Linked DNA regions of Homo sapiens. The protein of the gene in region 3 interacts with the protein of the main gene of each other region in a pairwise test. Each region holds a gene or a part of one and is shown on either strand. Other genes may lie near its edges.

Evidence for each region.
Region 1: the proteins of SMUG1 (region 3) and POGZ interact in binary tests that used the Homo sapiens proteins (3 or more experiments, as listed by UniProt).
Region 2: the proteins of SMUG1 (region 3) and CRX interact in binary tests that used the Homo sapiens proteins (3 or more experiments, as listed by UniProt).
Region 4: the proteins of SMUG1 (region 3) and LMO2 interact in binary tests that used the Homo sapiens proteins (3 or more experiments, as listed by UniProt).
Region 5: the proteins of SMUG1 (region 3) and LRRC41 interact in binary tests that used the Homo sapiens proteins (3 or more experiments, as listed by UniProt).
Region 6: the proteins of SMUG1 (region 3) and TIAL1 interact in binary tests that used the Homo sapiens proteins (3 or more experiments, as listed by UniProt).
Region 7: the proteins of SMUG1 (region 3) and KCTD9 interact in binary tests that used the Homo sapiens proteins (3 or more experiments, as listed by UniProt).

Annotation. Positions count from the first base shown.
Region 1 is NC_000001.11:151,424,995-151,428,494, forward strand, and holds part of POGZ (pogo transposable element with ZNF domain), read right to left. Parts: intron 3,420-3,500; coding exon 3,129-3,419; intron 3,048-3,128; coding exon 2,829-3,047; intron 68-2,828; coding exon 1-67. UniProt on the Homo sapiens protein: Plays a role in mitotic cell cycle progression and is involved in kinetochore assembly and mitotic sister chromatid cohesion.
Region 2 is NC_000019.10:47,828,437-47,831,936, reverse strand, and holds part of CRX (cone-rod homeobox protein), read right to left. Parts: intron 1-3,500. UniProt on the Homo sapiens protein: Transcription factor that binds and transactivates the sequence 5'-TAATC[CA]-3' which is found upstream of several photoreceptor-specific genes, including the opsin genes.
Region 3 is NC_000012.12:54,179,866-54,182,925, reverse strand, and holds the end of SMUG1 (single-strand selective monofunctional uracil DNA glycosylase), read left to right. Parts: intron 1-302; coding exon 303-830; 3' UTR 831-1,278; coding exon of another isoform or gene 1,279-1,407; 3' UTR 1,408-2,560; downstream 2,561-3,060.
Region 4 is NC_000011.10:33,871,577-33,875,076, forward strand, and holds part of LMO2 (rhombotin-2), read right to left. Parts: intron 1-3,500. UniProt on the Homo sapiens protein: Acts with TAL1/SCL to regulate red blood cell development. Also acts with LDB1 to maintain erythroid precursors in an immature state.
Region 5 is NC_000001.11:46,276,962-46,279,616, forward strand, and holds the end of LRRC41 (leucine-rich repeat-containing protein 41), read right to left. Parts: intron 2,654-2,655; coding exon 2,531-2,653; coding exon of another isoform or gene 2,481-2,530; exon of another isoform or gene 2,303-2,480; intron 2,297-2,302; coding exon 2,221-2,296; intron 2,124-2,220; coding exon 1,904-2,123; 3' UTR 1,322-1,903; coding exon of another isoform or gene 1,111-1,321; 3' UTR 1,020-1,110; coding exon of another isoform or gene 856-1,019; 3' UTR 501-855; downstream 1-500. Other genes in the region: RAD54L (DNA repair and recombination protein RAD54-like), read left to right, coding at 856-1,019, 1,111-1,321. UniProt on the Homo sapiens protein: Probable substrate recognition component of an ECS (Elongin BC-CUL2/5-SOCS-box protein) E3 ubiquitin ligase complex which mediates the ubiquitination and subsequent proteasomal degradation of target proteins.
Region 6 is NC_000010.11:119,590,465-119,593,964, forward strand, and holds part of TIAL1 (nucleolysin TIAR), read right to left. Parts: intron 3,056-3,500; exon of another isoform or gene 2,988-3,055; intron 1,654-2,987; exon of another isoform or gene 1,512-1,653; intron 1-1,511. UniProt on the Homo sapiens protein: RNA-binding protein involved in alternative pre-RNA splicing and in cytoplasmic stress granules formation. Shows a preference for uridine-rich RNAs.
Region 7 is NC_000008.11:25,437,934-25,441,433, forward strand, and holds part of KCTD9 (BTB/POZ domain-containing protein KCTD9), read right to left. Parts: intron 2,741-3,500; coding exon 2,644-2,740; intron 1,860-2,643; exon of another isoform or gene 1,732-1,859; coding exon 1,673-1,731; intron 1,475-1,672; coding exon 1,346-1,474; intron 1-1,345. UniProt on the Homo sapiens protein: Substrate-specific adapter of a BCR (BTB-CUL3-RBX1) E3 ubiquitin-protein ligase complex, which mediates the ubiquitination of target proteins, leading to their degradation by the proteasome.

The DNA.
Region 1 (3,500 bases), on a different chromosome or scaffold from region 3:
GCATTACATCGTGGACATATTTTCCGTCCACCATCCTGGAGGTCAAATACTGGGATGGAAGAGGTCACTGAAAGAAGTGAGAAGAATTGATAAGATTAATACAATGACACTGGAAAAAGATTACTGACCTTTTGGGAAAAAGTCAAACACTCCCTGAGAAGTATATAAAAGGGTAAGCAAGCATGAGAGATCACTATGGTTTTTGTTTGTTTTTGTTTTTTTTGAGACACGGTCTCTCAGTCTGTTGCCCAGGCTGGAGTGCAGTGGCACGACCACAGCTCACTGCAGCCTTGACCTCCCTGGGCTCAAGATCACTATGTTTGAGGCTTCCTTTTACTGTTCTAACTCTAGGCCAGGGGTCAGCAAACCACAGCACACAGATCAAATCCAGCCCAGCTACCAGTTTCTGTTTGGCCCATAAGCTAAGAATAATTTGTATGTGATTTTTTTGTTAAGGTTTTTGTTTTTTTTAATCTTGCAGAACTGAAGCTATATCCAATAAAAACCTCCTCACCATTCTCCCCTCGCCTCCACCCCGGCAACCACAATTCAACTTTGTCTCTATGAATTTGACTACTCTAGGTACCTCAAGTAAGTGGAATCATATGGTACTTGTCCTTTTGTGACTAGCCTATTTCACTTTAACATAATGTCCTCAAGGTTCAACCATGTTGCAGCACATGTTGTAGCAGAATTTCCTTTCTTAAGCCTGAACAATATACCATTGTATGTGAATACCACATTTTATTTATCCCTTTATCAGTTGATGGACCTCTGTGTTGCTTTCACCTTTCAGCTATTGTGAATAATGTTGCAATGAACATAGGTGTACAAATACCTGTTCTAGTCCCTGCTTTCAATTCTTTTGGGTATAGAATGGAATTCCTGGAGCATACAACAATTCTATCATTTTTAACTTTTTGAGGAACCACCATACTGTTTCCAAAGTGGCTGCATAATTTTACATTTCCACCAACAGTGCGTAAGGGTTCTGCTTTCTCCACATCCTCAACAATATTTGTTATTTTATGGTTCTTTGATAGTAGCCATCCTAATGGGAGTGAGACGGTACCTCATTGTGGTTTTGATTTGCATTTCCATAATGATTAATAACACTGAGCACCTTTTCATGAGCTTATTGGCAATAACTTTCTTTGGAGAAAGGTCTATTCAGTCCTTTGCCTACTTTCCTACTTTTTTTTTTTTTTTTGAGATGGGGTCTTTCTCTGTTGCCCAGACTGGAGTGCAGTGGCACAATCTCGACTCACCACAACCTCTGCCTTCCAGGTTCAAGCAATTCTTGTGTCTCAGCCTCCCGAGCAGCTGGGAATACAGGCACACACCACCACGCCTGGCTAATTTTTGTATTTTTAGTATAGACGGGGTTTCACCATTATTGGTCAGGCTGGTCTTGGACTCCTGACCTCGTGATCCACCTGCCTTGGCCTCTCAAAGTGCTGGGATTACAGGCATGAACCACCACGACCAGCGAGTCCTTTGTCTATTTTTTAAAAAGGTTGTTTGGGAGTTTTTTTGTTGTTGAACTGCACAAATTCTTTATATATTCTGGATATTAACCCCTTATTAGATACATAATTTGCAAATATTTTCTCCCATTCTGTGGCTTCCCTTTTCACTGTGTTGACAACGTCCTGCACAAAAGTTTTAAATTTTGATATAATTTAATTTACTCATTTTTTCTTTTCTTGCGTATGCTTTTGGTGTCATATCCAAGAAATAGTAATCACTGTCAAATCCAGTATCATGAAGCTTTTTGTCCTATAATTTTTCTAAGAGTCTTATAGTTTTAGTTCATTTAGGTCTTTGATCCATTTTGAGTTAATTTTTGTATTTATTGTAAGGTAAGATCCAACTTCTTTTGGACATGGATATCTAGTTTTCCCAACACCATGTTTTAAAGGTTTTTACTTTTTTTGAGACAGGGTGTCGTTCTGTTGCAGTGGCATGCTCATGGCTCACTGCAGGCTCAACCTTCTGGGTTCAAGCCCAAGCCATCCTCTCACCTCAGACTTCTGAGTAGCGAGGACTGCAGACATACACCACCACGCCTGGCTAATCTTTTTTTTTTTTTTTTTTGTAGAGATGGGATCTCACCATGTTGCCCAGGCTGGTCTCAAACTCCTAGGCTCAAGTGATCCTCCCGTCTTGGCCTCCCATAATGCTGGGATGAGGTGTGAGCCACTATACCTTGCGGTTTTTATTTTTAAATGGTTGAAATAAAAGAATAAAACTTTTCGACACATGAAAATTTTATGAAACTTAAATTTCAGAGTCCATAAATAGTTTTTAGTGGAGCACAGCCATGCTCATTCGTTTATGTATCTGTGGCTGCTTCCCCACCACAACAGCACAGTTAATAGCTGCAACAGAGGCTATATATTGTGCACAAAGCCTACAACTTTACTACTAGGCCCTTTACAGAAAACATTTGCCGACCCCTGCTCTAGACCACTGAAAACCCTCATGCTCATCATTCTCAACCTGAAGATCTCTCTACCAAATCCTAACTTTAAAACCTTGCTCAGAAATCCATCTCTTCCATGAAGTTATCTTTCATTATCTCACCCATCTTTAATCAATCAATTTCACTAATCTCCAAAGCACAATTACACACATAATTTCTTGGAGCTGATTCAGTTACACTTTTTGTAAGTGGCTTTCTCCTTACTAAAGTTTCTGTAAGAACAAACTACAGCAGCTGTATTTTATTTTATTTTTCTATTTCTGAGTATAAAGCTCTGATACAACAAACACTTTATTAATGTTTTTGAATGACTGGCTGCTCAGAGTCTTTCAGGTTATTGTACCTTTCATTGAAGACTCAGGTCCGCTGGTTCTTTGAGAGCCATGAGCAGAGCTGTTGTTGGACACCACCACTGGCCCAGGACTCTGGCCCAGGGAAGGGATGGTGTTAAGGGTATTCACCAATTTGGCCACTTCATTGCTATTTTCGCCTGTAACACCAGGTCGCTTCACAGTGACAAAGCTGGCAATGCTCACTGCAGGTGGAGAGGGGAAGGAGGGAGCTACGGTGACCAAGTGATAATCATCTGTTCTCCACCCACCATCCCAACCTGGCTCTGCCATCTCCTCTTCCGAAGCCTTACCTAGCTTGGGATTCGTGGTCTGGTTTGACTGGCCTGGAGACTGAACAGCTAGTTGCCCCAGTGAGGTTGGCTGTGTGGCAGTGGGAGTGGTAGAAGTGCTGGGAGTGGACTTGGTCTGCTGGGACTGGGACTGTGGGACGGTGCTTCGAATGGTAAGAGTGGCCGGGATGACGGTGGTGAAGGTGTTGGTGGTGGGCCTCACAGGCATTGTGGAGCCTGGCCTCACAGGGGTCATCTGGGAGAACACTTGTGGAACTCCAACTGTCGGCTTAACAAACTGGGTACCTGGGGCTTTAAAAGAGAGACAAAGTACCAGATCTTGGTCAGTGAGCTCACCTATAACACATTCTCCCTGCCTTTACTGGAAAGATT
Region 2 (3,500 bases), on a different chromosome or scaffold from region 3:
TGAAACGTCTCAACTAAAATACAAAAATTATCCGGGCGTGGTGGCAGGCGCCTGTAATCCCAGCTACTCTGGAGGCTGAGGCAGGAGAATCGCTTGAGCCCGGGAGGCAGAGGTTGCAGTGAGCCCAGATCGTGCCACTGCACTCCAGCCTGGGAGACAAGAGCAAGACTTCATCTCAAAAAAAATAAAAATTAAAAAAAGTTCTAGGCTCGGCAATAAGACAAAAAAAGCTGACAGCATGCCATTTCCAAGTCATCTGGGAGTCTTGTCTAACAGACCCACCCAAAGTTTGCTTCATATTCCAAGGCAGCAGTCCTCAACCTTTTTGGCACCAAAAACTGGTTTCGTAGAAGATAATTTTTCCATGGATGGGAGTGGGCAGTGCCTTAGATTTTCATAAGGAGTGTACAACCTAGATCTCTCGCACGTGCAGTTCACAATAGGGTTCACGTTCCTGTGAGAGTCTAGAGCCACCGCTGATCTGACAGGAGGCGGGGCTCAGGCAGTAATGCTTGCTCACCAGCTGTGCAACCCCATGCCTAACAGACTACAAACCGGGGGTTGGGGACCCTATTCTAAGGGACTGTACCTGTATTTGATTTACTATTCTTTTTTTTTTTTTTTTTTTTTGAGACAGAGTCTTGCTCTGTCGCCCAGGCTAAAGTGCAGTGGCGCGATCTCGGCTCACTGCAACTTCTGCCTCCTGGGTTCAAGCGATTCTCCTGCCTCAGCCTCCTGAGGAGCTGGGATTACAGGCATGCGCCACCATGCCCGGCTAATTTTTGTATTTTTAGTAGAGACGGGGTTTCACCATGTTGGCCAGGCTGGTCTCGAACTCCTGACCTCGTGATCCGCCTGCCTCGGCTTCCCAAAGTGCTGGGATTACAGGCGTCAGCCACTACACCCGGTCTGTTATTCATTATTGATTAGAGTCTAGACTTCGACAAGGTAAATGGTAACCCCAGGAAGTTTGGTTGCAAATGATTTCTCTCTGGTAGAAAAGGTAACCTCAAAGGTTACAGTTGTATTGTCCTGTAGGTCTTTAACCAGTTTTGTATCTAACCTGGCAAATTTTCTCCAGCCCGTCTTTCCTGACTAAACCTATCAACTTCTGTTCATCAAATTCTCCTTTTTTTTTTTTTTAATGGAGTCTTGTTCTGTCGCCCAGGCTGGAGTGCAGTGGCACAATCTCGGCTTGCTGCAAACTCCACCTCCTGGGTTCAAGTTATTCTCCTGCCTCAGCTTCCCAAGTAGCTGGGATTACAGGCATGAGCCACCACACCCAGCTAATTTTTTGTATTCTTAGTAAAGACAAGGTTTCACCATTGTTAGCCAAGCTGGTCTCGAACTCCTGACCTCAGGCACCCGCCACCACGCCCAGCTAATTTTTGTATTTTTAGTAGAGTCGGGGTTTCACCATGTTGGCCAGGATGGTCTCAATCTCTTGACCTCGTGATCCACCCACCTCAGCCTCCCAAAGTGCTGGGATTACAGGCGTGAGCCACTGCACCCGGCCCAAATTCTCCTTTGAAACAGCTGGTTCCTTCATTCATGACTTAAATAAATCTTTGACCTGTGCTTATTATATATGCGTCAGAGAATCAGATTTGTTTTTTGGGGTTTTTTAAGAGACAAGGTCTCCCTCTGTCATCCAGGCCGGAGTGCAGCGGCGTTGCCATAGCTCACTGCAGCCTCCAACTCCTGGGCTCAAGTGATCTTCCCACCTCAGCCTCCCAAAGTGCTAGGACTACAGACATGAGCCACCACACCTGGCCAAATGTTTTTCTTTTTTTCCCATTTAATTGCACTTTGACAATAAGTGTTTGTGAATGTTATTTTATATATTGTATATGACCAAACCATATATATTTATTATTATTTGTGTTATTATATATTATAAATATTATAAAATTATAATATTTATATATTCAAAGGAAACAAGTATGGTGCTGGGCAGTATGTATACCTCGCAACCATTTGTGATTTTTAAAACAATGCAGATGGCCAGGTGCTGTGTCTCACACCTATAATCTCAGCACTTTGGGAGGTCAAGGTGGGCAGATTGCTTGAGCCCAGGAGTTCGAGACCAGCCTGGGTAACATGGCAAAACGCTGTCTCCACAAAAAAAAAAATACAAAAATTGGTCAGGCATGGTGGTCCGCACCTGTAGTCTCAGCTACTCAGGAGGCTGAGGCAGGAGGATCACTGGAGCCCAGGATTTGGAGACTGCAGTGAGCTATGAGCATGCCACCGCACACCAGCCTAGGCAATAGAGGAAGACCTTGTCTCAATAATAACAATAAATAGGCCAGGTGCAGTTGCTCACGCCTGTAATGCCAGCACTTTGGGAGGCCGAGGCAGATGGATCACCTGAGGTCAAGAGTTCAAGACCAGCCTGGCCAACATGGCAAAACCCTGTCTCTACTAAAAATACAAAATTAGGCAGGCGTGGTGGTGGGCGCCTGTAATCCCAGCTACTCCAGAGGCTGAGGCAGGAGAATCACTTGAACCCGGGAGGCAGAGGTTGCAGTGAGCCGAGATCACGCCATTGCACTCCAGCCTGGGCAACAAGAGCGAAACTCCATCTCAAAAAAAGAGTCATAATAATAAAGTAAATTTAAAAATAAAAATACAATAAAATAAAAATACAAAAATTAGCCAGGCATGGTGGTGCATGCCTGTAATCCCAGCTACTTGGGAAGCGGAGGCAGGAGACCCTCTGGAACCTGGGAGGTGGAGGTTGCAGTGAGCCGAGATTATGCCAGTGCACTCCAGCCTGGGAGGCAGAGTGAGACTCCATCTCAAAAATAATAAGTATTATAATTATGAATTAATAAACAAAATGAGGCATTGATTTTACTCATGTGTAGAATATACACTTGTATATGCGTAGAAAATTCCCAGGAAGGAAGCAAGCTACTGGCACCAGTGACTGCCTCTGGGAAGGAATGCTAAAGCCATATCTTGTCTCTATAGTTTGGATTACTTTTTAATTGTGTGTGTGTGTGTGTGTGTGTGTGTGTGTGTGTGTGTGTGTGTGTGTTCTTGTCAAAAGCAAAAACAACAATAAAATCTTCAAAAAAGCAAACAGAACATGAAAACCCTCTGAGGGTTCCTCATTGCCCTCATTAGGATGGACTCAGAAAACCTCTCACCCTCCACAGCTATTTGCATAAGCCGTTTCCTGGGCTAGGAACGCCTCTCCCCCACCCCAAAGCCCCTCTCACCAGCTAACCCCTTCTCCTCCACGTCTCAGCTCAGCTACTTTCCCCAGAGAAAGCAACCTACGCCCCTAAACTGGATTTTACACACACACACACACGCTCCCTACCTCCTTTTCTTCAAGACACAGCTTGTATTAAACGACATATTTATATGTTTGTTTATCTATCTCTCTCCCTCAAATTCTATCAGTTACCTGAGTTCAGGGACTGGTAATATCTCGGTTCCTGCCATGTCCCCAGCACCCCCAATAAATATTTGAAACATAAGAAAAAGAA
Region 3 (3,060 bases):
CTAACCATCAAACCCTGTGTAGGGCTAGATATCTCAATGTAGTCCCTGTACTTAGTCCCAAAGGCTAGTTGGGCTAGAGGGAAACAAATTCTTCTGGACCACGGTTCACAATGAAGAACTGGAAAAAGACAGACAGGCTCAAACCATAGGGCCAAGAATCCTTGTCTCAGGCCTTTGGGTGAAGGTAGGGGTAGGGGGTGCAGGCTGGATCCTCATGTAAGGTATAAAGAAGTCAGTTGGTCCAGAGCCCGGGCCTCAGGTCTCCAGTTTGAAGCCTTTCATGTCTCTCTCCTTCCTCACAGGTGCCCTTTGGGGAAGTAAGCATGGTCCGGGACTGGTTGGGCATTGTGGGGCCTGTGCTGACCCCTCCCCAAGAGCATCCTAAACGACCAGTGCTGGGACTGGAGTGCCCACAGTCAGAAGTGAGTGGTGCCCGATTCTGGGGCTTTTTCCGGAACCTCTGTGGACAGCCTGAGGTCTTCTTCCATCACTGTTTTGTCCACAATCTATGCCCTCTGCTTTTCCTGGCTCCCAGCGGGCGCAACCTTACTCCTGCTGAGCTGCCTGCCAAGCAGCGAGAACAGCTTCTTGGGATCTGTGATGCAGCCCTCTGCCGGCAGGTGCAGCTGCTGGGGGTGCGGCTGGTGGTGGGAGTTGGGCGACTGGCAGAGCAGCGGGCACGACGGGCTCTGGCAGGCCTGATGCCAGAGGTCCAGGTGGAAGGGCTCCTGCATCCCTCTCCCCGTAACCCACAGGCCAACAAGGGCTGGGAGGCAGTGGCCAAGGAAAGATTGAATGAGCTGGGGCTGCTGCCACTGCTGTTGAAATGAGTGCCCTTGGGGCCTTGCATGGGACACATTCAAGACCTCGAAGTCATTCTTGGCCAAGCAGATGACAACACATCTCCTGGACTGGAGCAAAAGGTCCTTCTGTGCACCCTGGTCGCTGGGAAACGTATTCTTTGATCTGTTGAACTGTCTTCCAACCTGCCATGGCAGTTTTGACACTACTCCTGTTTGCCCTCCTGATTCCTGCTTTCTTTACCTTTTAACATTGCCCCTTTCAGGGGACCCCACTTTGTAGGGAATCTGCAGAAGGTGTGCTTTTGCACTTGCAGACTGCTCTACCTCAGTGTTTCCTTGGGAGACTTTATTCAGCTGAGAGTGCCCTAGACAGTAACTTCTAAGGTCACGTTTACTATTTCAGAGGAAATATCTTGCCAGGATACCTACCCATCCTTATAGAACAGTTACCTTTAGCTGACCCCTTTCCTCACAGGGACCAAGACAAAGCATGGGACATGAAATTAAGAGTGAACTTCTTATGGGAGGCTGCAGCTGGATCAGAGGAAAAATCCAGTGTGACAGAGTGCAAGTCAGAAGACCTGGCTTTTCATCCCAGCTTTGAAACTTGGAACTTTTTGATTGACAAATTAATAAACCTCTCTATGCCTCAGGCTCCTCATCTGTAAAACAGGGATGCCTACCTTATGGGGTTGGTGTGAGGATTAACTGAGATCACACTTGAAAGTGCCTTGCATGGGCTTGGCATGTGGGTGCTCATTACATAGTCTTCTTGTTTTCTTGCCTCTGGGTTGAGGATTCACAGCACTGCACTACAAGGGTAGCCCCTCTCCATTCTGGATACCTTGCTAGGAGAGAGTCTGGGCTTCCACCTGCGGCCAGGGTGAAGGGAAAATTCTTGCCATGTCAGAGATGGATCAATGACTATGAAAAAACTAGCCTGTGATTTTTTTTCACTCTAAGCATTAAGAGCTCCTAAAGCCTTTTGTCTTGTTACTTTTTTCCCCCTCTTGCATGCTAGAGGTGGAAGGTAGTCATTTAGATTTCCCCCCTCTTCCCTCTTCATTGTTGGCCAGGGGTTCTCTTGGGCAGCTGGGGGAAGGATGTAGTAGATCTCTCTTTTTTTTTTTTTTTTGAGATGGAGTCTCATGCTGTTGCCCAGGCTGGAGTGCAGTGGCATGGTCTCAGTTCACTGCAACATCTGCTTTCCCGGTTCAAGTGATTCTCCTGCCTCAGCCTCCTGTATAGCTGGAATTACAGGCATGTGCCACCACGCCTGGCTAATTTTTGTATTTTTATTAAAGACAGTGTTTCACCATGTTGGCCAGGCTGGTCTCAAACTCCTGACTTCAAGTAATCCACCTGTCTTGGCCTCCCAAAGTGCTGCTGCCTGGCTGGATGTAGCAGATCTCCAATTGCCTTACCAAACCTGCAGGGTCTCTGTTAAGTGTCTGTTAGGGGTCTTATATGATACTCTGGACACCGTGAGAAACAGGTGATGGGGCAGATGGGAACCTGGTATCCAACTCATTTTTTATGTCTGCTGAATGGTTGACTGGGTGCCCCTTTGGTAAGGGCTGGGAAAGTGAACCAAGTTGGGAGCAGAGCAGGTCTTGAGACCACCTTAATGAGGAACACATGGTCTACTTCCTATCTCCTGGGACACAGGTCATTTCCAGCTTCCAGAATTAGTAAGATTTTTCATATAAATCCTCCCCTACTTCATTGTATAATAAAGAATTTGGCCTTTGTCTTCAGTTCCTGAGAAGGAGACTCTAAATCCTTGGAATTTCCCAAGTAATAGGAGTATCTTTGTTTTTCGTGGCAGGTCCCTGAAACTACACCTGAATTTATGTTGAGATTTGACCTTAGGCTGCACCTAATTTTATATTGAATTTGATCTCAGACCACACCTGAGTTTGCTGTAAGATTTGACTGAGGATGGAGGCTGACCATGCCAGAATGACCAACCATATAGTTACAGGGCTGGGACTTTGAGCTGGATGATACCAGCTTGATCCCCAGGGAGGGGAGAGGGGCTAGAGATTGAGTTCAGCCACATGCCGATGATTTTAACCAATTATATCTATGGTAAAACTCTAGATATAAAAACTTCTGACACAGGTTTTGGTCAGCTTCCTGGCTGGTGAACACATGGATGTGCTGAGGGATGTGCATTGGTATCCTGTTTCTATGAGCAGAGGGCACACATCTGTGCCTGGGACACTCCTGGACCCTACCATATATTTGTCTTCAT
Region 4 (3,500 bases), on a different chromosome or scaffold from region 3:
AAAAAAAAAAAAAGTTGGGTTTTTTTTTTTCCGATAGACCCTTGTTTTTAATTTAAAAAAGAAAATACTTAGAATTTAGGCAAGCCTAAACTATGTGATAAATATGTAACCTACCACACTACTTTCATTTCTAACAGAAATGAAAATAAATATATAGGTTGTGATGAACAGTTTACCTACTTATAACCAGTCAATGTGGTGGTTAAACGCTGGAATTTTGGAACCCAACTGCCTGGGTTTGATTTAGACTCTTACTTATCAGTTAGCATGTCCTAGGAAAATTATTTAATCTGAGGAGGCAGTATGCGGTAGTAGCTCTGGAGTCAGACTACCTGGATTCTAACCCATCCTTGACCAGCTGTGTCAACCTGGGCTCACAGCAGGAATTTAAACTCCCAGTATCCTGGCCGGGCTCGGTGGCCCACACCTGTAATCCCAGCACTTTGAGAGGCCGAGGCGATCCCAGCACTTTGAGAGGCCGAGGCGGGTGGATCACTTGAGGTCAGGAGTTCATGACCAGCCTGCCCAACATGGTGAAACCCCATCTCTACTAAAAATACAAAAATTAGCCAGGTGTGGTGGCACATGCCTGTAACCCCAGCTACTCGGGAGGCTGAGGCAGGAGAATCACTTGAACCCAGGAGGCAGAGGTTGCAGTGAGCAGAGATCGCGCCATTGCACTCCAGCCTGGGTGACAGAGTGAGACTCCGTCTCAAAATAAATAAACAAACAAACAAATAAACTCCCAGTATCCTCATCTGTAAAATGGAGACGACAGAACCTATTGCCTAAGTTATTGTGGGGATTATATGAGTTAGTGCACAAAAGGGTGGCACATAGATTTGTAATGGCATGGGGGTAATAACAGATATGAAGTTGCTTGCATGAAAAGCAACTGGTATATAGTAAGCACTCATAAATGGCAGCTGCTATGTTATAGTAAAGGGCATCATTAAGATAATTTTAAAAGAGCTTGAAATTAAATTTAAAGGTGAAATGGGGGTTTAAAATAAGAATTGCCCACCCAAATTTGGAAACTATTTCCTGTTTTTTAAAAGCAGGAAACAGGATTCCTTCACCTCACCCCCTTCTTCTCCTAAATAAAACATGTAAGTGTTTTCCATTTTAACGTTCATTATCGTGGTGACTAAATGACCTGTTTGCATCTGCTTGGGTGTTATTTGTTTGTTTGTTTGTTTTTTGAGATGGAGTCTCGCTCTGATACCCAGGCTGGAGTGCAATGGTGCGATCTCAGCTCACTGCAACCTCTGCCTCCTGGGTTCAAGCGATTTTCCCTGCCTCAGCCTCCCGAGTAGCTGGGATTACAGGCGCTCGCCACCACGCCTAGCTAATTTTTTGTATTTTTAGTAGAGACGGGGTTTCACCATGTTGGCCAGGCTGGTCTGAAACTCCTGACCTCAGGCGGTCCATCTGCCTCAGCCTCCCACAGTGCTGGGATTGCAGGCATGAGCCACCGCGCCTGGCCACATCTGCTTGTTTTTATTTAATCTGATAAATTATTACTTTCCTTGTCACAGTTTTGCATGGGGCTCAAGTCAGTTTTTAAATTAAATATATCCTTGGGTTCCAAGAGGTAACCTCAGAACAGCCAAATTCAGGGCATAACGTTTCTTTTTAATAATATGCTTCTACTTTGACCTGAGTGTGTAAAGAAAAAGAGATTACTGCATATGACTTTGGGTCAGTTTCTTATCTTTCACAACTCTTTGGGGAGAACTTCCTTAGAGAAGGTGAATATTTGAAATGGTATCTTAAGATTTCAATTTCACACACAGTGGTTGTAAGAAATAACTGCCTACCGGTGGGATTTCATTCCTATTCAACGGGCAATTAAATTGCTCAAATTTAAGTTTAACATTTAGAATCAAGTCTCAAAATGTGTTTTTATTATGAATAATTTTAAAGCAATCATGACCTTATTGTATCCTCCCTTAACAACTAGTACATGCCTTATGCAGAAGAGAGACTCAGGAACTATGAGGTGATTGGGACATGTAAAACGGTTCTTTTAAAAGTTGAGAAAATCTCTATTTGATCCCTGCCAGTGGGACTGAAATTTCATTCCTTTTCCCTTTCCCCCAATTCCTTGCAAATCTTAAATATCCTAAAATCTAGAAAATGTTCAAGTTTTCCTTCCTGAATAAGAATGCTAGAAGAAGAATGAATCAATCTACACGATGGCTCTGACCCCAGATGGATCATTTTTTTCCCCTGTGGGCATTTTCTATCCTTTTTGCTTATTACATTTACAATTGTTTTCTAAGGGAACAGCAGTTTCAAGTGACTAAGGTTACATTCCTTTGCTAAAATGGACTTCTGATAGAAATGAAAATGCAAATATAATTGAGAAGATCCCAACATTATGATAATTTACCTCTCTTTTTTTTTCAACCATTAGAAGCCAAGTTGCAACATATGCTTTGTCACTTGTGACATTCATATACAAAAATATGACATTTTGTTTCTAAATGTGGCATTCAGGAACAAAAATAAAGACCTGTCTTAATAGGGTTTCGGCTCCCATGGAGAATTTTTTTAAACTATTCGGTTGTCACAGGCATCCTGTGCTCAGACTCATTTCAGAACATTTCAGGGCCAGCTGACAGATAAGTTTTCACAGATGTAAGGCCTATTAGTAACCTTAGTGATAAACAGATTCGGTTTTCTATATAGTAAAGAGCCCAAAATACATCTTTTAAAAAATCCATTTCAACCGAGCCTTAGGATGAGCATAGAAGCTCAGCTGTTTGCTAGCTGCGTGATCTGGGGGAATTTACTTCACTTCTCTGAACCTCAGTTTCTGTACCTATCAAATGGAGGATGGAGGCAATCATAATGTCACCAGGGCCAGAACTAGGATGAGGCCACTGGGGTGCCTGCTTGCCTCACAGGAGTTTTGAGAGGAGTCAATAGGATATGTATAAAAATACTTTGCACAGTGATGCTGCACAGTAAATGGTCAGAAACGATAGCTGTTGGTATTACCCCATCTTTCAGAAGTAATCACCACTGTATCAGGAAGCAACAATCTCCCAGCCAATCAGGACATCCACCAAAGAGTGCTGAGACTGGGGTGCTGTAGAAAGAGCTGAAGTTCACCTAAGACCTCGGCAAGCCTCAGGCCAGAAATGCAGGGCTGTGCCCATTTCGGGGCCTGGGTAGGCTGCTGACAGCTTCTCTGCTTCTCTGCTACACTGCTACACTGACTGCTTCAGCCACATCCCTGATTTCATCTGATTTTCCCCTCCAACAACTTTCAAACCACCATTTATAATTTAAAAAAGAAGCCAAACAAAGCACTGAAGGAGCCGCCCCCAAATGTCACCATTCCTCAGTGAGTTCTTAGCAGTGTTAAGCTCATAGTGTGTCCTAGTGGAAGGGGCCTGAGAAGTGGGATTTTCTAGCTTGCTCCTTGGAGCAGTAGGAGTTTGAAAGCACCTCCCTAGTGGGTGTCACCCACCCCTGCTCCCACTGCAGCA
Region 5 (2,655 bases), on a different chromosome or scaffold from region 3:
AATTTTTGTATTTTTAGTAGAGACAGGGTTTTGCCATGTTGGTCAGGCTGGTCTCGAACTCCTGACTTTGTGATCTGCCTGCCTCGGCCTCCAAAATTGCAGGGATTACAGGCGTGAGCCACCGTGCCTGTCCCCAAGGTTCTTTAATGTGGCCTCTGCTGACTTCCCAGTCTCAGCTCTTACTATACTCCCACCAACCTCCAGTTAGCCTGAACTACTCACAGTCCTCCAATAGGCCAGTAGTATTCCTTTGTTCCTATGCTGGGAATACCTTTCTTTGTGTCTTTTCTTACAAACCATCTACTCATTTTCAAGATTGAGCTCAAGGATAGAGTTTCAAGTTTTCAATACTGTTCTACTCTACCATCCTTATGGACTCGCAGTTACCCTGTATAGATTTCTATCATTGTATCAACTGTTTAAATGTTTGTCTAGGAGCTAAAGGATAGGGGATATATATGATTCTTTTTTGTATGCTAATGTCAGCACAGGGTCTGGAATAGAATAGATACCTAAATGATATTTATTGAATGAGTTAGAGTTGGGCTTGGTGCAGAAATCTGAAGCTGCAGCAGACAAACCTCAGTTCACCCTGACGGGATTTAGCCAGGCCCTGGGACCCTTCATTAGTATAGAAAGTAGCCTGGGTGGGCAGACTATTCATGTCATGTTCTCAGGAGACAGACTGGGAAAATGGACCTCAGCTGAGTAGAGATAATGTTCTGGGACTCATACTTTTTATTCATCTCCTCTTCTCGGGTAGCTGTAGTTTCAACCCTTTGGTTTTCCTGCTCCCTTTTTATGAGGATGGCTAAGCGCTGTATCTTTTGACATTCCCCACCTCCTCTTCCCCAGGCAGGGACCATTGAGGAGAAGATCTTCCAGCGTCAGAGCCACAAGAAGGCACTGAGCAGCTGTGTGGTGGATGAGGAGCAGGATGTAGAGCGCCACTTCTCTCTGGGCGAGTTGAAGGAGCTGTTTATCCTGGATGAAGCTAGCCTCAGTGACACACATGACAGGTGGGGAAGTGCCCTAACCATTATCTCTAAGCTACCCACACAGTAGGGAGATGGGATCTGTAGTGACTTCAGCTGTGCCTTCTGTCCCTAGGTTGCACTGCCGACGTTGTGTCAACAGCCGTCAGATCCGGCCACCCCCTGATGGTTCTGACTGCACTTCAGACCTGGCAGGGTGGAACCACTGCACTGATAAGTGGGGGCTCCGGGATGAGGTACTCCAGGCTGCCTGGGATGCTGCCTCCACTGCCATCACCTTCGTCTTCCACCAGCGTTCTCATGAGGAGCAGCGGGGCCTCCGCTGATAACCAGCTGGTCTGGGTGTAGCTCTTAGAGGAAGGAGATAGGGAAAAGGGGCTCCTTGCTCCACAGGGCCCTGTTGAATTTTGTTCTCTGGGAGAAAATCATCAAGAAGGGCTGCATGATGTTTGCCCAAAATTTATTTTATAAGAAAAACTTTTTTGGTTAAAAAAAAGAATAAAGGTATGAAAGGGTTTGAGGCCTGAGAGCAGTGTGGTAAGCCCAGCAGGGAAGAAGCCCCCTATACTTCTCTAAAGCCTGGGTGCCTGCTTGAGGAGGGAAGGCAGGAACCCAGGGGCAGGGGAGGGGATCTCTTCAGCAATTATGATGACCACTGTAACCTCCTGGCCCAGGGTTCCCAGGATACTGAGTAAGGGGCCCAAAGACTATAAACCCAGCTGTGAGAATGCCTGTTTGCTGGGCCTCATCAAGGCCTCCAGGACCTCAGTGCAAGGGAAGAAGGAAAAAAGAGAAAAAAGGTGACAGAAAGAGAAAGATAGAACTGGTGGTTGGGGTTCTGGGCAGCCCATGCTTCAGCCCCTGCAAGCTGATGGTACCGAGCATGAGACTGTGAGGTACGGGCCCCATCACATGGTGCTAACATAATCTGCGAAGGCCTGGGATGAGTCCCATGAGTCGCTAACCACATGGCAGGTAGCCCGGAGCCGCCGGATGGCTTCCCTGGCTGTGACTGCATCCTGGTCCAGCCAGTTTTGGAAGAGGCGCAGGTGACCAAAGGCTCCACGGCCCCAGCGCTCCAGCCGCTTGGCGAACTCCAGAAGCCCATCTGGCTTGATGCAGTTGGAACTGGTAGGGTGAGATGGATTAGATATCCAGGAAGCAGTGAATTCCTGGTCTATATCTCTGTAGCCCCATCCCTTGTCTTGCCCCTCCCCTCATGTACCTGATGTCCAGCTGACAGAGAGAGGAGGATGAATCCTCTGAGAAAACATCTGCCAAGGCCAGCAGGCCAGCATTCCCTGGAGAGAAGGGGAGAACGCCTATCACCTCCACCCAAGAACAGGGGACAAGGGTATCCCAACCCAACTATGGCTGGCAGAACCAGCCCTGCTGGTTCCTGAAGCCCCAGCACAGAAATATCTGTATTCCAACTCCCACGTTCCCAGTGGAGAGGTCTTTGCCTTTATCCAGTGAGTTTTTAGGTCAAAGGCCTAGCTCCTTTCCCCTCTCCCTCCCCAGGGTCTGGCCCCCACCCAGGCGGTTCCCTGGCAGCCGGAGGCCCTTCAGTGTGGAGTTGCCCTTCATAGCAGCAACCATCTCAGGCAGAAATTGGGCTGGGCGCTTCTCAAACAGACGGCAGAAGGAGAAGGTAATCTCT
Region 6 (3,500 bases), on a different chromosome or scaffold from region 3:
ACTTTGGGAGGCTATGGCAGGCGGATCATGAGGTCAGGAGTTTGAGACCAGCCTGACCAACATGGTGAAACCCTGTCTCCACAAAAAATACAAAAATTAGCCGGGCATGGTGGCGCGCACCTATAATCCCAGCTACTCGGGAGGCCGAGGCAGGAGAATCGCTTGAACCTGGGAGGCAGAGGTTGCAGTGAGCCGAGATTGCACCATTGCACTCCAACCTGGGCGACAGAGTGAGACTCCATCTCAAAAAAATAAATAAAAAAGAAAGAGAGAAAGAGAGAGAGACAGAGAGAAAGAGAGAAAGAAAGAAAGAAAGAAAGAAAGAAAGAAAGAAAGAAAGAAAGAAAGAAAGAAAGAAACGAACAAGTGATCTTGAGCTTCTAAACATTATGCTCCTTGCCTAAAGGGCTAGTTAGCTCACTTCTAAGAGAAAAGAAGGATGGATAAAACTGGTTTTCACATATTGAAGCTAGCTAATAACAAAATTAAAATAGAATTATCATTTTAATATAACACATTTTAAATGATTTAAATAGTTTTAAATTTCCATTACTGTTTAAACATCAATTTCTTCAGGAAAAACTGTATTGGAATTAGTTACCTTCTATATCTAATAGTCACAAAAAAAGCCGTCACTGCTTAATAAGATCTTTATTCCACCAGGTGTGGTGGCTCACACCTGTAATCCTAACACTCTGGGAAGCCGAGGCAGGTGGATCACTTGAGGTCAGGAGTTCAAGACCAGCCTGGCCAACATGGTGAAACCCCGTCTCTACTAAAAACACAAAAAATTAGCCAGGCATGGTGGCGGGCACCTGTAATCCCAGCTACTTGGGGGAGGCTGAGGCAGGAGAATCACTTGAACCCGGGAGGTGGAGGTTGCAGTGGGCTGAGATCGCGCCATGGCACTCCAGCCTGGGCAACAAGAGCGAAACTCCATCTGAAAAAAAAAAAAAAATCTTTATTCTAAGTCAACCTATTTCCCGCCAGTTACAGATCTTGAAGAATTTCTAGAGGCATATTTAGATATATTAATTTACATTTCTAGCACTGAAAGCAAAGATGAAAACGTTAATATCTAAGTTTAGAATGTCATGAAATATTTATTTAAAAATCCAGTATTAAGGTTTCCTATTTTTCAAATTATCTCCACTAAAAGTTAAATGTTAAGCAGCAAACTAAATTTCAAAAACTAACATGAAAGGCCTTCCATAACAACACATACAATATCTTAATTTACCAGGATTAAAAGGCCATGATTCACTATATAATTTCACCTAAACTTTACCCAAATTTCAGACTGCCTTTTCTTTTACTGAGTTCTTGTACCCAAATTTCAGATTGCCTCTTCATTTACATTTGCCTTCGTGCATCATAACACTTGAGAGACGTATTGTATAGCTTTTAAAATACTGTACTATTCTATTTTAAGTACTTTTACAGTATCATAAAATAATCTGTCCCAAAGTAAATACTAACAAAAATATTTAAGACAAAGTTCAATGCCTGACCTAGTAAGATCATCTCTTGGTAGTTCATTGAAATGACATCTTTATTCGTTCCAAATTATAGCTTCTACACTTCACTTTCTTTCTGCTCTGGTTATGAAATAGTCAAGCTAAAGATCCAAGTCTTTAAATATATAATTGCTACCTAAAGAACATACACAAAATAACAGAAAAAAGATAAATGGCTCTAATTTTTGTATTGAGAGGTCAATTCAAAGAGTAAACACTTAGGAAATTCCAAAATGATTTTTAACTCAACGAAAAAATTCAGAAGAGGCATACCTTAGAGTCTATTTTGTCTTCTAAGAACAGGAACTGTAGGAACTGAAGCATTAAAAACTGAAAATGACACCTTTATCTCTAATATCAGGGTTAAAATCCAATTTGGGGCTAAAAACTTAGCAGTTTCACAGTAGGCAGAAATTCACATTGCCAAACTACTTCCTGTGTCCGACTGGGCAGAATTTTAAGTTAAGAATATCATGCCTTTCAGAAGACTAATGACACTTTTTCAACACTGAATGTGCTCTCACTCTGAAAAGAGTAGCCCTACCAAGGCTGAAATTATCAGCACTTTCACACAAAAAACTATAGCTAAATTTCCATAATAGTTTTGCTTTTGTTCTTGACAAGTCCTATACAAGAAGAGATTTTGCAATAATATCCTTCAATAGATCTCTAATTAATTGTTCAATTTGTCGGTACAGTATTTCATTTTAGGAAGGAGGCATGATGGAAGATAGCTGCAGGAGGTACAACTAAATTGACCAACTATATATATGAGATATTCTCACACACACACACACACACACACACTCACTCTCTCTCTCTTACTTTAAAGAAACAAAGAATATGATTAAGTTGAATTTGAATGAGGGGCTTGATTATAGCCACAGTATAGCCAAATCCATGGTATAGCCAGTCAATTTTGTAATAGTTTATAGAATTTTCTTCTGCTTTGTTCTTAGATGTTCAGATTATACTCTAAATCATTAGCTTATTTCCAGGAAGAAAGAATAGCCTTAAAGGAAGGGATTGTGTAACATGGTATTACACGAATTCCTAGCAATTTTGGTGCATCCGATAGATGAAGAAAATAAAATAAGCTACAATAAAACACTATTACAATTTAGTGTCATATTGTAGATTCAGATATACCATGGATCAAATCACTGCACTACAAAGATACACACAACCCAAGCCTGAAATGTGTGTCCCACAAGGCAGGTGTCAGACAGTCCAGTTCCAACACCAGTATTACACAGCATGATCTTGTTTGTTTTTTTAGATCACAAGTTACTCAATGCATAATACCCCAAAATAAATGTCAAATGAGAATGAAGAACATCAGAAAACAGACCTTTAAAGCAACTATATGACAAATAGAAATTTAGGCTCAACATCAAAGCAATTCTTGCCACTTTAAATACCATCAAATAAATTAGTAATACTGTAGGTAATGAATATTTAAAGACCTACCTAGGCTCTAAACACCATATTGTTTTCTGAAGATAGAACCATATGTCTTAGCTTGTGTGTGTCTGCAGGAAAAAAACCTCACTAGTAACACACAGGCATCTTAAGGAAACAATTTAAGATAAGCTTTGTTAAGAACACATTCTTTTAAAACATACTGGCCACTTGAAAAACCTAATCCATAGCTCACAATGTAAAATATAAGATCTCCATAAACAAAAAACCCTACTAGATATCAACGTCTAAAATCATGTTCAGTTTTCATCATGTTACTTATATCTAATAGAACCCTTTGAGAATATGTAAAACGTACACTTAGAAAAACTATGCATTATTTGTATTAAACTCTAATAAAAATCCCAATTGTTAAACATTTGCTTTTATCTCAAGATTTTACATTTGAAGGTTTTAAAAAATATATAAAAGTCAACAGACTGCACCACATGTGACAGTAATGTCTGCCTACAATCTTAGTTCAACCAGGACTTTTAAAAAAGAACTTAATACTAATTTAAT
Region 7 (3,500 bases), on a different chromosome or scaffold from region 3:
TTACTGTAGATTGTTTTAAAGCATATAATTACTTGGGGCAACCTGTAGGCAATGTAAAGAGTTTGGATGGAAACTGTACTAACTGAAAACAATGCTTTATAAAATGAATCCAGCAGAGAGCTCTGCTTTTTGAACACTTGAACAAATAAATGGTTGAGAAACATGAAAAAGAAAAAACTAGCAAATCTTGGTAATAGCTTGGTTTGCAGATGTGTGACACAGCATGGATAAATATATTTCTGACATTTTCTAGGCAAGTGGGATACAAAATGCTATCAATAATTTGAAGAAAAATTAAAATGGGAGAAATAGAAAGCAACAAGAATTTAGTTATAAAGTTATAGAACTAGCTAAAAGGGTCAAATAATATCTTTTTTTTTTTTTTTTGCAATAGGTACATGTTCAAGGGAATATAAAGTTTGTTATAGCAACACTAAAAGTTAATGGGTGTTTTGTATTTCACTACAGAAACTGTAAGCCAGCAGTCCTCAGGCTGATTCTGATGTGTTCAGCATGTAATGTTTTCAAAACAAAAACATGTCACATAAAATTTTAGATACCCAGGTTTTCTTTAAAAACCAAGGTTCTGGCACTCTACGTCTGACCACTTTGCACATGGCAATGATCTGCTGAAGCTGACAGGCATGTGACCTCAAGATTGCCAACTGCCTACCATTCCTCAAGTACTAACATCACATCAACTTCAGTCACTTGGAGGCCTATTAGCTTCCAAATATGCAACCAGTGTTTTATAAGGGCTTTGTCTACATCACCTCCGTGAATCTTCACAAAAATCTTGTGATGTAGATAGGGTCAAGAGTGCTTTTAACACTCATTTTTCCAATATGACTCAGAGAAATTTCCCCAAGTTAGTCTCCCTAAGTTAGCAAGTTGTAGAATCAAGACTCTAATTGAGAATTATGATTGCAAGGCATGATTTGCCCTCTTGACTACTCTAGTTCTCACATAATGTGGGGAATATCCAGAACTTGGAGCCAAGTTACATTCTTAATTCAATTTTTAAAAAAGGAAACAACAAAATCCTTTAAAGTCACTTGTGATAGAACGTAAATCAATTTAGAATATAAAGTTGATGCGTATGGCTTACATATTTAGCTATATGTACAAAGACTATCTACCTGAAGGACCACCTGCCCGTGCCTAAATCTATTTCTACACCTATATCACTCATATACATGTGAAAACATCTAGTTTAAAAAATAGAAAAAATATATACTTTTACTTTATGGAAATATACTGTTACTGAGTGAAACAAAGTTAAAATCTTAAACTTACAAAAATGTGAGTAGTTACATAATTATATTGAAAGTCTAAATAAACTCACCCAATAAATTAATGCCATCATTTACAATGAGCTGTCCATGACGCAAGTAGTTCAAAATGGGTTCGAAGTACTCAGGACTTCGGTCAATTAAGAAAGCTCCTCTATGATCTTGCTTATTTCCCCAGACACCTGTGTCACCATTATAATAAAGAAAGTCCCCCATAAACAAAAAATAAAGTCAGAAATGTATGAGGAAAAAATTGCTAAATATAAGTTTTTACTCTTAAAAACTGACATAATTAGTAAGTACAGAAGGTCAGGAGTTATAAAGTCAGCACAGATATAAAACAGGTAAGATGAAATGTGAAAACAACGTGTTACACTCACCTTTGTCCTTAAACATGTGGGCCAGCATACTGTCAGGTTCTTTATTCACTAAAGTGCTCCTAAGAATTCAGGGAAAAAAATTGATTTCTCCATTTGTCTTTATAAACAAACATATTTAAGTCAAGAGTATACTCGATCCCAGCTGCTCTCTCAAAAAGATGCATGCTACAACCTGGTAGGAGTAACGCTGGGAAACAAAAACGTGCAGTAAGTTGCCATTTATCAGATCCCTTCTAATAGGGTACTTCCTTTGATTTAAACATTGTTTTAGTTTCCTTTGCTTTAAATACTTGTCTGTCTATCCTGTAAGCAAATTATTACATAATAATATTCTTGATCTTCCAAACTTACATTTTTCTGCCCTTTAATAAAAGCAGTTGTAGTCTCCACAAATTTCAGTAGTGTTAATTTTTACTTATATTGTGTGTTTATTACTCAATATCTAAAAAGCATGTTTTTTTTTTTTTTTTTGAGAAGGAGTCTCACTCTGTCACCCAGGCTGGAGTGCAGTGGCAGGATCTCGGCTCACTGCAAGCTCCGCCTCCCGGGTTCACGCCATTCTCCTGCCTCAGCCTCCCAAGTAGCTGGGACTACAGGCGCCCGCCACTACGCCCGGCTAATTTTTTGTATTTTTAGTAGAGACGGGGTTTCACCATTTTAGCCGGGATGGTCTCGATCTCCTGACCTCGTGATCCGCCCGCCTCGGCCTCCCAAAGTGCTGGGATTACAGGCGTGAGCCACCGCGCCCAGCCAAAAGCATGTTCTAAAACACTGAAGTGATGCCTTTTATGCTTTCTCTGGAGTGAACCATGTTTTTTTCTTCAAAAAAAGTTATAAAAAATGGTTTCAGATCACATAGTATATTTAAGCAGCATTTGAGTATCTTTTAAGGAAATCAGCAAATTGAAGAACAAAGGGTACACAGTGCTTCTTTTGCATTCTCTTTCTAACACACATACACACACACCTACCGTGTAGTTGTAAAGTACCGCCCTCCAACATTTAATGTCAGCCAGTCTGTGTGGAATCCTAACAATCCCTCAGGAGGCTTAGAATCTGTCTGAGGATCTAGAGATGACATGTAGAAAATAATACAAATATTAAGATTGGGGATTCTGGGAAGATGGTAATGGCATAATTTTTTAAACTGAATACACACATAATAAAAGCATACCAGAGCTACTAGGACAGCAATACCCAAACCCACAGACTGCATCTAAAACAACACTAGGTGATAAGGTAGTCCCACCAATACCAACAGCTATAAGAGCAGCATGCTTTCAGCGCCTGTGAAAGAAAAAGCAGAGAGAAGCAACAGGGTATATGATGAACCCATGAATGTTAAAGCCATCCATAGATACTGACTTCATTGCTTAATAAGTCTAGCTGAAAACAACAGATTGAGATCATCCCAAAAGTGGGTGATGCAAGTAGTTTGCAGTAAGATCTTATAGGGCTGAAAATAAACTCTTAAAACCAAATGGCCAAAACTCCCTTCCATGGACAAAGCCCCATACTGATAAGATGCTGGGAAAATAATCCAAGTTGAATGCAACAAAGACAACAGAGACAAAAAAAAAAAAGGACTGCAGATGAAAGTTAAGAGGTTTAATAGACCAGAATATATCAGAAAATGAGTTCTGTGTATTTTAAACACTTCACAAAAACAACAGAAAAGGGAACTCTAGAGCCATGAAATTGGAAAAACTGTCCTGTCAGCCCTCTTTTCAAGTTAAGAAAAACTAATTTCATATAAAAATGAGCAATACAAAAAGACTGATCAAATGTTAATACAAAAGTGTTAAAATAATAATTGTCCTTATAGATA